4 separate regions of the Homo sapiens genome follow, and regions 1, 2 and 4 are each linked to region 3. The links come from fine-mapping of genetic effects on gene expression. A gene starts in region 3. Each other region holds a variant in brackets. All regions are shown on one strand. Distances are between the middles of the regions. Region 1 overlaps DOCK10 (dedicator of cytokinesis 10). Region 2 overlaps DOCK10 (dedicator of cytokinesis 10). Region 3 holds the start of DOCK10 (dedicator of cytokinesis 10). Region 4 overlaps DOCK10 (dedicator of cytokinesis 10).

The links. PIP is the estimated chance that this variant, and not a neighbour inherited with it, causes the effect. A credible set is the group of variants that fine-mapping cannot tell apart.
Region 1: its variant is the best candidate, but not a certain one, in a credible set for the expression of DOCK10 in whole blood (INTERVAL, PIP 0.79).
Region 2: its variant is the best candidate, but not a certain one, in a credible set for the expression of DOCK10 in whole blood (TOPMed, PIP 0.85).
Region 4: its variant is the best candidate, but not a certain one, in a credible set for the expression of DOCK10 in lung (TOPMed, PIP 0.63).

The regions. Positions count from the first base shown.
Region 1 is chr2:224,938,797-224,941,296 of GRCh38, forward strand. The region is part of intron 1 of DOCK10 (dedicator of cytokinesis 10); the gene reads right to left. It overlaps LOC124906121 (a long non-coding RNA gene), which reads left to right. Exons shown (of 3, transcript XR_007088106.1): 3 at 2,419-2,488. Among named protein-coding and RNA genes, the nearest start is that of MIR4439, 70 kb to the right of the region's middle. The variant G/A (reference allele first, on the strand shown) is at 1,469.
Region 2 is chr2:224,891,640-224,894,139 of GRCh38, forward strand. All of the region lies in intron 4 of DOCK10 (dedicator of cytokinesis 10), which reads right to left. Among named protein-coding and RNA genes, the nearest start is that of MIR4439, 120 kb to the right of the region's middle. RefSeq lists an enhancer at 971-1,597. The variant C/T (reference allele first, on the strand shown) is at 1,272.
Region 3 is chr2:225,041,375-225,044,106 of GRCh38, forward strand. DOCK10 (dedicator of cytokinesis 10) reads right to left here and starts at 1,094. Exons shown (of 56, transcript NM_014689.3): 1 at 878-1,094. The coding sequence starts at 1,000. RefSeq lists an enhancer at 1-140 and silencers at 691-930, 1,121-1,490.
Region 4 is chr2:224,906,745-224,909,244 of GRCh38, forward strand. All of the region lies in intron 3 of DOCK10 (dedicator of cytokinesis 10), which reads right to left. Among named protein-coding and RNA genes, the nearest start is that of MIR4439, 100 kb to the right of the region's middle. The variant G/A (reference allele first, on the strand shown) is at 1,336.

The sequences.
Region 1 (2,500 bases), 100 kb before region 3:
CCTGGGTCATGTAACAGATTTAATTTAGCCTTTCATCAGAGGGAGTTCCCCTGGAGAACCTCTCAAATGTTTGAGCTTCTGAAAACAAGGCTACTTTTTCCTACCAAAAAGGAAGTGATTAAGTAAAGAATAAGCCATCTTACACTAACCCTTTAACCTTCTGTCTGTCTTGAACCACACAGTTTCATGAGAATGGAAAAACACCAGCCAAATCAAAGTTAACAACTGTGCAGCTGGGCAAACTCAGATTAAGCTGAATTTGGAAATGGCTCCCTTGGTAACAAAGACGGACACAGATCTCACAAGAAATCAATCAGCAGTAACTCTTTGAATGTCTTAGTCCATTTCAGTGACATAAAGCAGGTGAAAGTCGGTAAAGCATAAAATGTTTTGCAGATATAAGGGATGACTGTATTGTTACATTCAACACACACATTATCGTTAGAAAAATCAGAATTTTCTATTTTGTTAACCCTTAATTTCTTTAGGGAAAGCAAGGACACAAAGGAGCTTTATAGGATTTGTGATGTAAGGTGCACTTTCAAACTAAATTTGGATCTTTGAAGTCTTATTTTCTTTTTAAAGAAATCTGACCATGTATATCTCTTATGAGCATGTTAAAATTCACACATTTTTGTATAGCAAATAAAAATAAAATTTAAAAGTGGCTGCTTCTCTGTATTTGTAAAGAAGTAGAAAATATCCAAGAAGATCTAAATCAAACTAAATTACATGTCTCATTTAGTTTTCTAGAAACACTTGAATGATAATAAATATCATTAAAAATACATCACAACCCAATTACAAGGCTGCCTGACACAAGGGAAATTAATGCCTTAGAGTAAACTGGAGAATTTTAGATTAATTTATATGAAGCCTGTGATGAGAGCTGTCACCAGCTTAACCTCAGATACTATCTTATTATTTTTAATAATCACAAAAACATTCACTCACAGGTCAAGTGTTGTACACGCACATACATGTCACACATACAAATGTAAATAGTTTTGTCAACAATAGGCATTTTATAATTTCAATATGTCTTCCCATAATGACAGACCATTCTTTTATTTCCTTTCCTACCTGTGGCTACTTGAAGTTGAATATGCATAGTGGATATTTGTTGTCTTTTGGCCTATGTGGCACTCATCCTACTTTCTTTTAGTACTAGCATTTTAATTTCCTTTTGGGGACTTACTTCTTTCCACATTCCCATAAGAAGCAGCCTTGGTGGATTTGACTAATGAAAGCGTCCTGATTTTCTGGCATCATGGGTGTGTGACCCCAGCAAGACCCATTCAACGCTTTCCTGCCGAACTCTGAATCTTGAGTGGAAGGATGCAAATGTTGATGAAAGGATTGGAATTGTTTCATTTCTGGGGCTACACTCCCACAAGACTTTCCATTAGTTTGAATCATCAAAACCACCCATTTCCCACTGTTCTGAGCTTCTCTAAGTCCATTCCTC[G/A]TTCTTTTCTGAGCCCATCTCTCCACTCTTCCTTCTGTCCCCTTCTCTGGACTGTGTTTGTTCATTGGAGTAGGTTTCCAATGCTTGCAACTATAGGAATCTAATGAGATATAATACAAGGAATAGTGCCTAGAATAAGGGACTACTATTTCCTCAATTTTTATGTTTATTTGGATTTGAATGGTCTTAAAGGAGGACCTCTTTTAGCTAATGACTTCTGTCTTTGAGGTGTGGGAATTTAGGTTTGGTAAACTCCTGAATTACCAGTGCAACCCAAGATTGTCTCATTCTGTGAAAAGTACACCAGGTATCAAGCATCCTGAAAATGGGGGCTTAAGAACCTTCCTGGTTCTCCAGGGAAATACATTCAGTGCAGCCCTGATCTCTAATTTTCCATTAAGCCTTACCCATTCAACCCATCACTCTCCTATGACAGCAGAATATCTGGAAGCCAAAAAATGAGTTTAAGACCCCGTTTACCTTCAGTGACGATAGTCACATACTATAATTTTGCTCTCTGTAGGAGGTGCCTGGTTGTGTGGGAAGTTCCGGCAAACCCCTGCAATATACAACAGATCAGACACACCTAAGCTAGCAATGATTTAGGTATGTCTCATCTGTTGTATATTATAGGGGTTTCACCTTTCTTCCTCCCCCCATTTTCATCTTACAAGTCACATTTACTGTATTTATTTATTATAGTAAAACTAATTCATATGTGTTTTCTTGTAGAAATAACAGTCACACCAAATAATTGATAATAATGGTAACAATATGCACTACCATTTTAAAATAAATTACCCTGTAAATGCCAATAATGGTTATTATTTTTCTACTACCACTATCATACATAATGGCAAAGACCATAATCAGTATTTAATATCTTCTCTCACTGAATACCAACATCAACCCTGGAAAAGAACATTACTGCTCTTTTTTTTTTTTTTTAGATGAGTAAGCTTGGATTTTGAAGACTTCAACAACTTGGCTGCAAGTTGATGGGAGAATTGACATTCTAACCCAGCTCAGTTT
Region 2 (2,500 bases), 150 kb before region 3:
AAGTCAATAGCAAAACTCAGAAGATATGAGACAAAGAATACCAACGAAGTCAATAGCAAAACTCAGTCAACCCCAGTAGTCCCTAGCCACATCCATGCTGATCTTAATCTTCACTTTTAAAAATTATGCAGACCAGAGACTGTCAATTTAAGTCAGATCTGGGGCTAGGGTTGTAGTGAATGTAAGCGTGCCACTTCACTGGTGGTTTTTCTTAATTCTGAGTTTGCTTGATCAAATTCAAAGTGCATTATTGAGAACTGTCTTAATTCTTGGGGGCCATTCTCCTTTGCCATTCAACATTCCAGTTTCCAGATATTACCTGGCTCCCAGAAGAGCTGCAATAATGTCAACCACATATCAGAAAATAAGTTCCTGAACTGAGGAAGCTTGCATTCTAGGGGAGGAGAGAGTCAATCATGAATTAAGCAGAAATAAGATAATTTCTCTGAGTGAAAATGGTTGTTAAGAAAATCAAGGCTGGGTGTAGCAGCTCACGGCTGTAATCCCAGCACTTTGGGAGGCCGAGGCTGGTGGATCGCTTGAGGTCAGGAGTTAAAGACCAGCCTGGCCAACATAGTGAAACCCTGTCTCCACTAAAAACACAAAAAAATTAGCCAGGCATGGTGGCCTACACCTGTAATCCCACCTAATTGGGAGGCTAAGGCAGGAGGATCCTTTGAACCCGAGAGGTGGAGGTTGCGGTGAGCTGAGATTGTGTCACTGCACTCCAGCCTGGGGACGAAGTGAGACCCTGTCTCAAAAAAAAAAAAAAAAAAAAAAAAAGAAAGAAAGAAAAGAAAAGAAAAGAAAAAAATCGAAGAGGAGAAAGAGGAGAAGAGCGATGAGTGATCCTTGTGGAAATGGCAAAGGCCACGTGTAGAAAGACTCTTCAAGGATGGCCTCTCTCGAGAGGTAACATTTAAATTGAGGAGGAGAAGCAGCTGGTTGTGTGATGACCTAGGAGAAAATCCCCTGGCAGAGGGAGCTGCAAGAGTACAGGTTCTGAGGAGGGGCCAAGTGTGGAGCATCCAGGAAGGAAGGCTGTAGGGGCTGGAAACAGTGCAGGAGGGAGGGCTGCGGGAGGGAGGCCTGTCCAATGCCCTTGGGCAGGGAAGGCAGACAGTGCTTGGATCATTGCTGAGGCTTGAGGGCTACTGAAGATTCTTATTTCCCAATCCGGTTTTTAATAAGCCACAAGGCACAGCCTCCTGCCTTTAAAGAGCAATCTTCAAGCTCAGTCACATGTCTGTGGGGCTACTATGCAATGACTT[C/T]TCTCTTTTAAAGGTCATGAAAAGATCAGCACCTGTGGCTATTGACTTTAAAATTCTTCCCCCAGGACCATTGCGTGGTCTCTAAGAGCCTCGGGGATACCAAGATAAAGGGCTCATCCCAGACCTTACCCTTTGGTGTTTGCATCCGACATTGGTGATAACTATAGGCAGCCTCATTTCTCTTTTCTCTGACCAAATGACCTGGATTACCCAGTGTGGGATGCCTGAGTGCCCCATCAGTTATCAGCTGTAAGTTTTGGGGTAAATTCCCTCTCAGTTTCCGAGTTTCTGCTATAAAATGAGGATAACAGTTCCTATTCCATAGGGTTATGAGTATTAAATGAGATAATGCATGTATGACACCCAGCACATTCTGGCTCACTGTAGACACTCAAAAAAATGCTCTTTTATTAAAAAAAAAACAAAAACTGTTCTATTTCAGCCCAGCTAAGCTGGTCACACTTTATTTGATCTTTAGTCACAATTTATACTCTTATGAATTTTTCTTCCTTACATCTTCTTTCTATCAAATCGACCATGGTAAAAAATTTTAATATGTCACACATCTCTGTATTTTACCCAGTGGATTAATGAAATCAGTGGCATCATATATTTTTATGCTGCTTTTTTCTTCTGGGATCTCCAAGTTAGTGCTGATTTCTATTCCTAGTGTGTAAAGGCTTACATTTTCCATTCTAGCCTGAAGTCATCTATTTCTTCAGTATCTTCCTATGGACCCTCGCTTAAAAATAAAAAAAGTGAAAATCTTAAGAGTCAATAATACACATTTAAATTTAAAGAATAAATTTCACCTTTTTTTTTGCTTTTCTATAATTGCAAATTTTCATTTTGCAGTCTCAGCAACTCATAAAAAGAAATAAGCAATTTAAATTGGTAGCAGACATAGGAGAATTCTTCTAATCCAGGAGGTATGAAAATGATTTACTTCTATTAGCCTCGGAAGACCCAAGTAAATTGTCTGTTTCCATTACTGACCTAAATACATGTAGTCTTTAGAGGGGAATGCTTAGCTTTGTAAAATCATTTTAAAGAATAATTCTGCTGTTCAGTGCTCATCTTCATTGTTCTGGGGTATATCTGAAAGGGTTATATTTTTGAACTTCTGATTTTCAGTTTGAATACATAAAGTTTCTTACTTTGTGGCAGTCTGATTCTTCCCTTTCTTGGTATTAACTTCCACTTTCTTTAGTTAAAGTAAGGGAAATTCT
Region 3 (2,732 bases):
CGTTTCCACTAGAGTTGATTTGTCTCTTGCCACCTCTCCCCGGCAGTGTGGACCTACTGCAACGCAGGAACATCTGGGTTGGTATGGATAGGATCCTAGCATCAGATGCTGGCTGCTGCCCCAGGGACTTCCCGCGGAAATCACCCAGCACTTAGAAGCCGTTTCAATAAGGAAGTAACCAGTAAAGCATTGCTGGTGGGAGAACCCCGCGAAACATCTTAGAAAAATATCAGAAACCGCTGGAGACCTAATGACCCACGTCTCCTCCAGCCTGTGTTCCTCAGCCCTTTCTGGAGGAGTATTAAGTGGTTTGTGGGTTTTTACCCTGCGGTGGGAGGGCTGTTCCAAGTACATCTATTTCTGCGATAGTTAACGTCGGGGGGCCCCAGCTCTAACCAGGGCGAGGACCACGGACTGCATCCCTCTCTCTCAGCGCACTGGTCTGTTTACTGGAGGGTGAGAGGGACGCGCAGACCTCCGGACTCAGGGGTTCTGTTCTGTAGATCCCCCCACCCCACCCGGGGTCTCTGGCACTCGTATCACTTAGCACCAGTGTGACTGGCGGTGCATTCCGGCCCCCTCGCGCCCCATTAAAGCCCCTGCACATCCTCTCCCACGCTGCGCTTCTGCTACCCACGCAGCTGCTCCTCTGAGCGTCCCGCGTGCACAAACGCGCCCCCGGTCCTTACGCGTCGGTGGCGCTGCCTCGCTGAGGTGGCGCCGGGGGAGCCCGCAGAGGCGGCGGGGGAGGGAGTGCGGAGGAGAGGACCCGTGAGCTGCGGGGACCTGGGCCCGCCGAGCTTTTGGGGAAGCTGGGCTCCGTTCCCCCCGGGCGCCTGGGGCGCGCGGGAAGGCGCGGAGGACGCGCCGCACTCACCCGCTGCTGCTGCCGGCTGCTGACTGCCACCGCGGCGGCGGACGCGGCGCTGTGCCGGAGCTCGGCCGCCTGCCCAGGTCTCAACAGGCTCCGGGTGAACCTGCGGGTCCGCTCACCGGCCATCGCCGGTCACGCCAATCGCGCCGCGGGCCCGGGGCGCGCCTCCCGCCGGTCTTCCCCGCGCCAACCTTCTCTATCCACCCGCCGTTCAGGAAGCGGAACTCGGAGCCTTCCCCCCCCTCTTCCTCGCTCAACTCGCAAGAGGCGGGTTTTTCTCTCTTGCACCCCCACTCTTCCCACCCCCTTCCCTCCTCTGAAGCTTCTCGAAGACTTTCCAAACTCTGCGCTCCCCCGGGCGCGCGCGGCCAACTCGGCTGGCGGCCGGGCCCTGCAGCGGCGCATCTGGAGCGGGCGTCGCGGGACGCGTGTGGGGCGGCTCCTGCCCGCGCCGCCCACACGGGCTCAGCTGGCCGGCCGGGGCTGTCCACGCCGCCCGGGGGAACTGCAGGCTGCGGGGGAGGGCGGGGGGCGGCCGCCGAGGGGCTCCGGGCGGGGCCTGTCCAAGGCCGTCGCCTGTCCAAGGCCGTCAGCCTCATTTGGAGGTTGCTGGGAGAGTTGGAGCCCTGGATGCATTTGCCGTTTAGACTTCTATTTTCTGGGTCCGGCTAGTGGGTGGGGGCCAAGCTCGGTTCGCCCTTCCACCCTCGGGAAGGGGTCAGAGGCTTATTAAAGATCTGGTGGCTGGGATCCCAGCAGCATCGCCCAAGCCAGCGTTTGGAAGGCTCCCTTGCCAGAAGTCCATGTTCAGGGCCTTGGAATAAGCTTCCCCATTCATTCACTCCTTCAATGAGTATTTATTAAGCGCCTACTATATGCCAGCTCACACTGTTCTGGAAACTGAGGATACGGAGAGGAACTTAGCAACTACACTTTAAGGCTGTGTAGAGCTGATAGGTTTTTTCGGGGTAGGGGTGGGAGACAGCAAGTAACCAAGCGAACAAATAAACAAATACAGAGAAATCAAGGAGACAGTTTAAGCTACTAACACGAACTCAAAACCAATAAATCAGCGTTCTGGGGGTAAGAGACTTTGGGTGGCATTAGGATGAGTAGGCAAGAACCAACTGGCAGGGTTACTATGTAGGGTGGTCAGGTCGGGGGTGGATTTCACAGTTATGCTGTCTCTGCTCTTCTCTTGCCCATACCCATCTAGCCTGCACTTTGCCTCTAGATAGGTATCTGATGAAAGCCTTCTAAGAAGTCTCTTCCTGGGTCATACCCAGGGTGGTTCTGCAATTCAGTGTTGGACTGGATGGGGGGCAGAGAAGTTCTGGCCCCTGGATACTGGTCTGGAGAGATCTGGGACAGCCTTTCCAAGTGGTCTGGTTTTTTCTTAACAGCTTTTTATGGATCCATGACCCTGCCACTTTCTAAAGCCAATGATAGATAGTTATAACACAAGGTCACATTTGGGTATAAAGAATTCTTAAGCAATTGATAAATGCACTTTAGTCAGCTCTTTGTTAGCCAGGATTCAATTAGCCAGAGATGCTGTTTGGGGATCATTTCAGCACATTCTAGAAATCATAACAGGCGTAAGAGGGTAAGAGGCTCTGGCAGATTTGGGAAGTGCCATTTGAAACATCATCTAGTTCCAAGACAGCCTGCATAACAAATAACTGTACCTGTATTGTATGCTTTCATATTGGTACTCAGTGTGGGAGCAACACCACCTTTCAGGGTAAGCAAAGTAGGTGGTTGCCTCTGTGTTGGTACATGAAGATCTCTGTAGGAACAGCTCCCTCCAACCGTACCCTTTCCCAGGTGTACCCAGACTTGATGTCTCTGAATGCAT
Region 4 (2,500 bases), 130 kb before region 3:
CTGGGATTACAGGCGTCAGTCACCGCACCCGGCCTTGTTTATCTTAAAGTAGTATACTCCAGGGGGTACTTGTCAGAGTGTGTCGTAGAAATCTAATCAGAGGTCTGTAACTTCTTGCCTGATGGTATGCACCTTGAGGGCAGGGACTGTGTTTAGCCAGTGGTTAAGCCCATGTTGGATAATGAACCTCCTCTAATCTTTCATCCAATGGTTGATTCTCTTTATCACATAATTTCAACACAATGTGATCTGTAGTAACAGTAAATCAGTGGGACAAGAAATTTCTATGTAAATTTCACTCTTTGTAAAGATAATTAGCTCCACCTAACTGAATTGCAATTAGCAGAGTCTTATATACCTCGTTTATGCCACCGGATTCACAGTTGCCCCTAGGACAAGAGAAAGGCTAATCTGATAATTAGGTAGGGGAATGAAGGGAGAAATTTAAGGGCTAAAAGAGTATTACACTGACATTTATGATCATTGTTAATTACTTCAAACTCTGAGAGTAACATTATTTATACTTATAATTTGCTGTATGAGGGTAAGTACATAGAACTACCATCACTGGGGCTTGTGCCGAATTGTGTCTTAGAATTGCATGACCTCCCTGAACACAGGTAGACATTTTCGATGCTAACAGTAAGAATTAAGAATAGAGGGCCAGGCGCGGTGGCTCACGCCTGTAATCTCAGCACTTTGGGAGGCTGAGGCGGGCAGATCACGAGGTCAGGAGATCAAGACCATCCTGGCTAACATGGTGAAACCCTGTCTCTACTAAAAATACAAAAAAATTAGCCGGGTGTGGTGGCGGGCCCCTGTAGTCCCAGCTACTCAGGAGGCTGAGGCAGGAGAATGGTGTGAACCAGGGAGGCGGAGCTTGCAGAGAGCTGAGATTGCGCCACTGCACTCCAACCTGGGCGACAGAGCGAGACTCCACCTCAAAAAAAAAAAAAAAAAGAATAGAGGTTTGGCCATGAAAAGAAAACAACTAATTTATCTGATCTCCTGGAGGGTTTAATATTTTCTTTTTCTGCATTAGAATCAGCCTGAATGAAATGCACATGCCGGTTCACCCAATTGTTGATTTCTGTTTTACTTGAACTACATTGTGCCTCTAGTTTCTGGTGATCTCCTTGGATCACATTTACATTAGCATTTCTCAAAGGTGTTTCTTAAAGATACTTGGAGAAAAATGGACAGAATTTCTACATGGTCAAATACATTTTAGAAATGTTTCATTTCATATCCCCTTCTAAGACAGTCTTGATGGATATTAGCTAATTAAAGACTCTGAATGTGTGTGTGTGTGTGTGTATGTTTCTATGTGTGTGA[G/A]ACACTTAGGAACATCGTGCAGACCTAGCCTCTTGCCGAACGTTCTGTGCCTACATAAAGTTGGCTTCTGCCCTGATTTAAATGAGTTGTGTGTGTGTGTGTGTATGTGTGTGTGTGTGTGTGTATTTTTTATGGACAGCTAGAGATTTCAACAACATTTACTTCGCCTTAAATCATATTTGTATTTACCATTTAGTCTTGGGTCCTGTTTTCATTTTTGTTTTTTCCTTTCCAGAATTCATTTCTGGTTTGAACCCCTTGCTTAAAATCTGAACTTTTCCTTGCCCCGGTAGCCTAGTACTATTTGGATGAAGACAGTACATAATCATCATCGTTTGTGTGTGTGTGTGTGTGTGTGTGTGTGTGTGTGTGTACATGTGTAGATGTGGCTGTAGAGATAAGTATTTGCTTTTATTCTTTTTTATTTTTCTACGGACAGAGTCTCACTCTGTTGCCCAGGCTGAAGCTCAGTGGCATACGCATGGCTCAGTCATGCAGTCTCAAATTCCTGAGCTCAAGCCATCCTCCTGCATCGGCCTCCTGAGTATTTGGGACTGCAGGTGCACACCATCATGCCCAGCTAATTAAAAAGTTTTTTTTAGAGATAGAGTCTCACTATATGGCCCAAGCTGGTCTTGAACTCCTGAGATCAAGTGATCCTCTTGCCTTGGCTTCCCAAAGTGCTGGGATTACTGGTATAAGCCATTGCACCCAGCCTGCTTCTGTTCTTTCAATGTTATCATACCTCCTAAGTCCCCAAGAGTTTTATGCCATGATCAAAATGAGACTTGGATGAAGTCTCCTCACTTATCATTATTCTACTCCCGCAGCAGCATTGGTTTTCAGAAATCAGAGAGGGCTTTGTTGTCAGAGTAACTTGCTACCTTAGTACTTTGTCAGTATTTCTCTCAGCCATTCAGCTGAAGTGGTCCCTAGACCTTTGTTCCCTCTTGAGCCACTGTATTGTTCTCAATTCTTTGCTCCCTCATCTCCTTTTGTTAAGAGAGACTGAACCAAGAGCTTGGTTTTAATTAGTATGCTGAGCTTTCTTCCAACTTTATATGATCCCTTTGTGTATATTAAAATAAAAGCTTCGTTATAGAAGTTTTGCTTAGGAAGTTTGCATCCTATTTCTAGATCACTTTAATTGCCCCCCTCTCCTCCT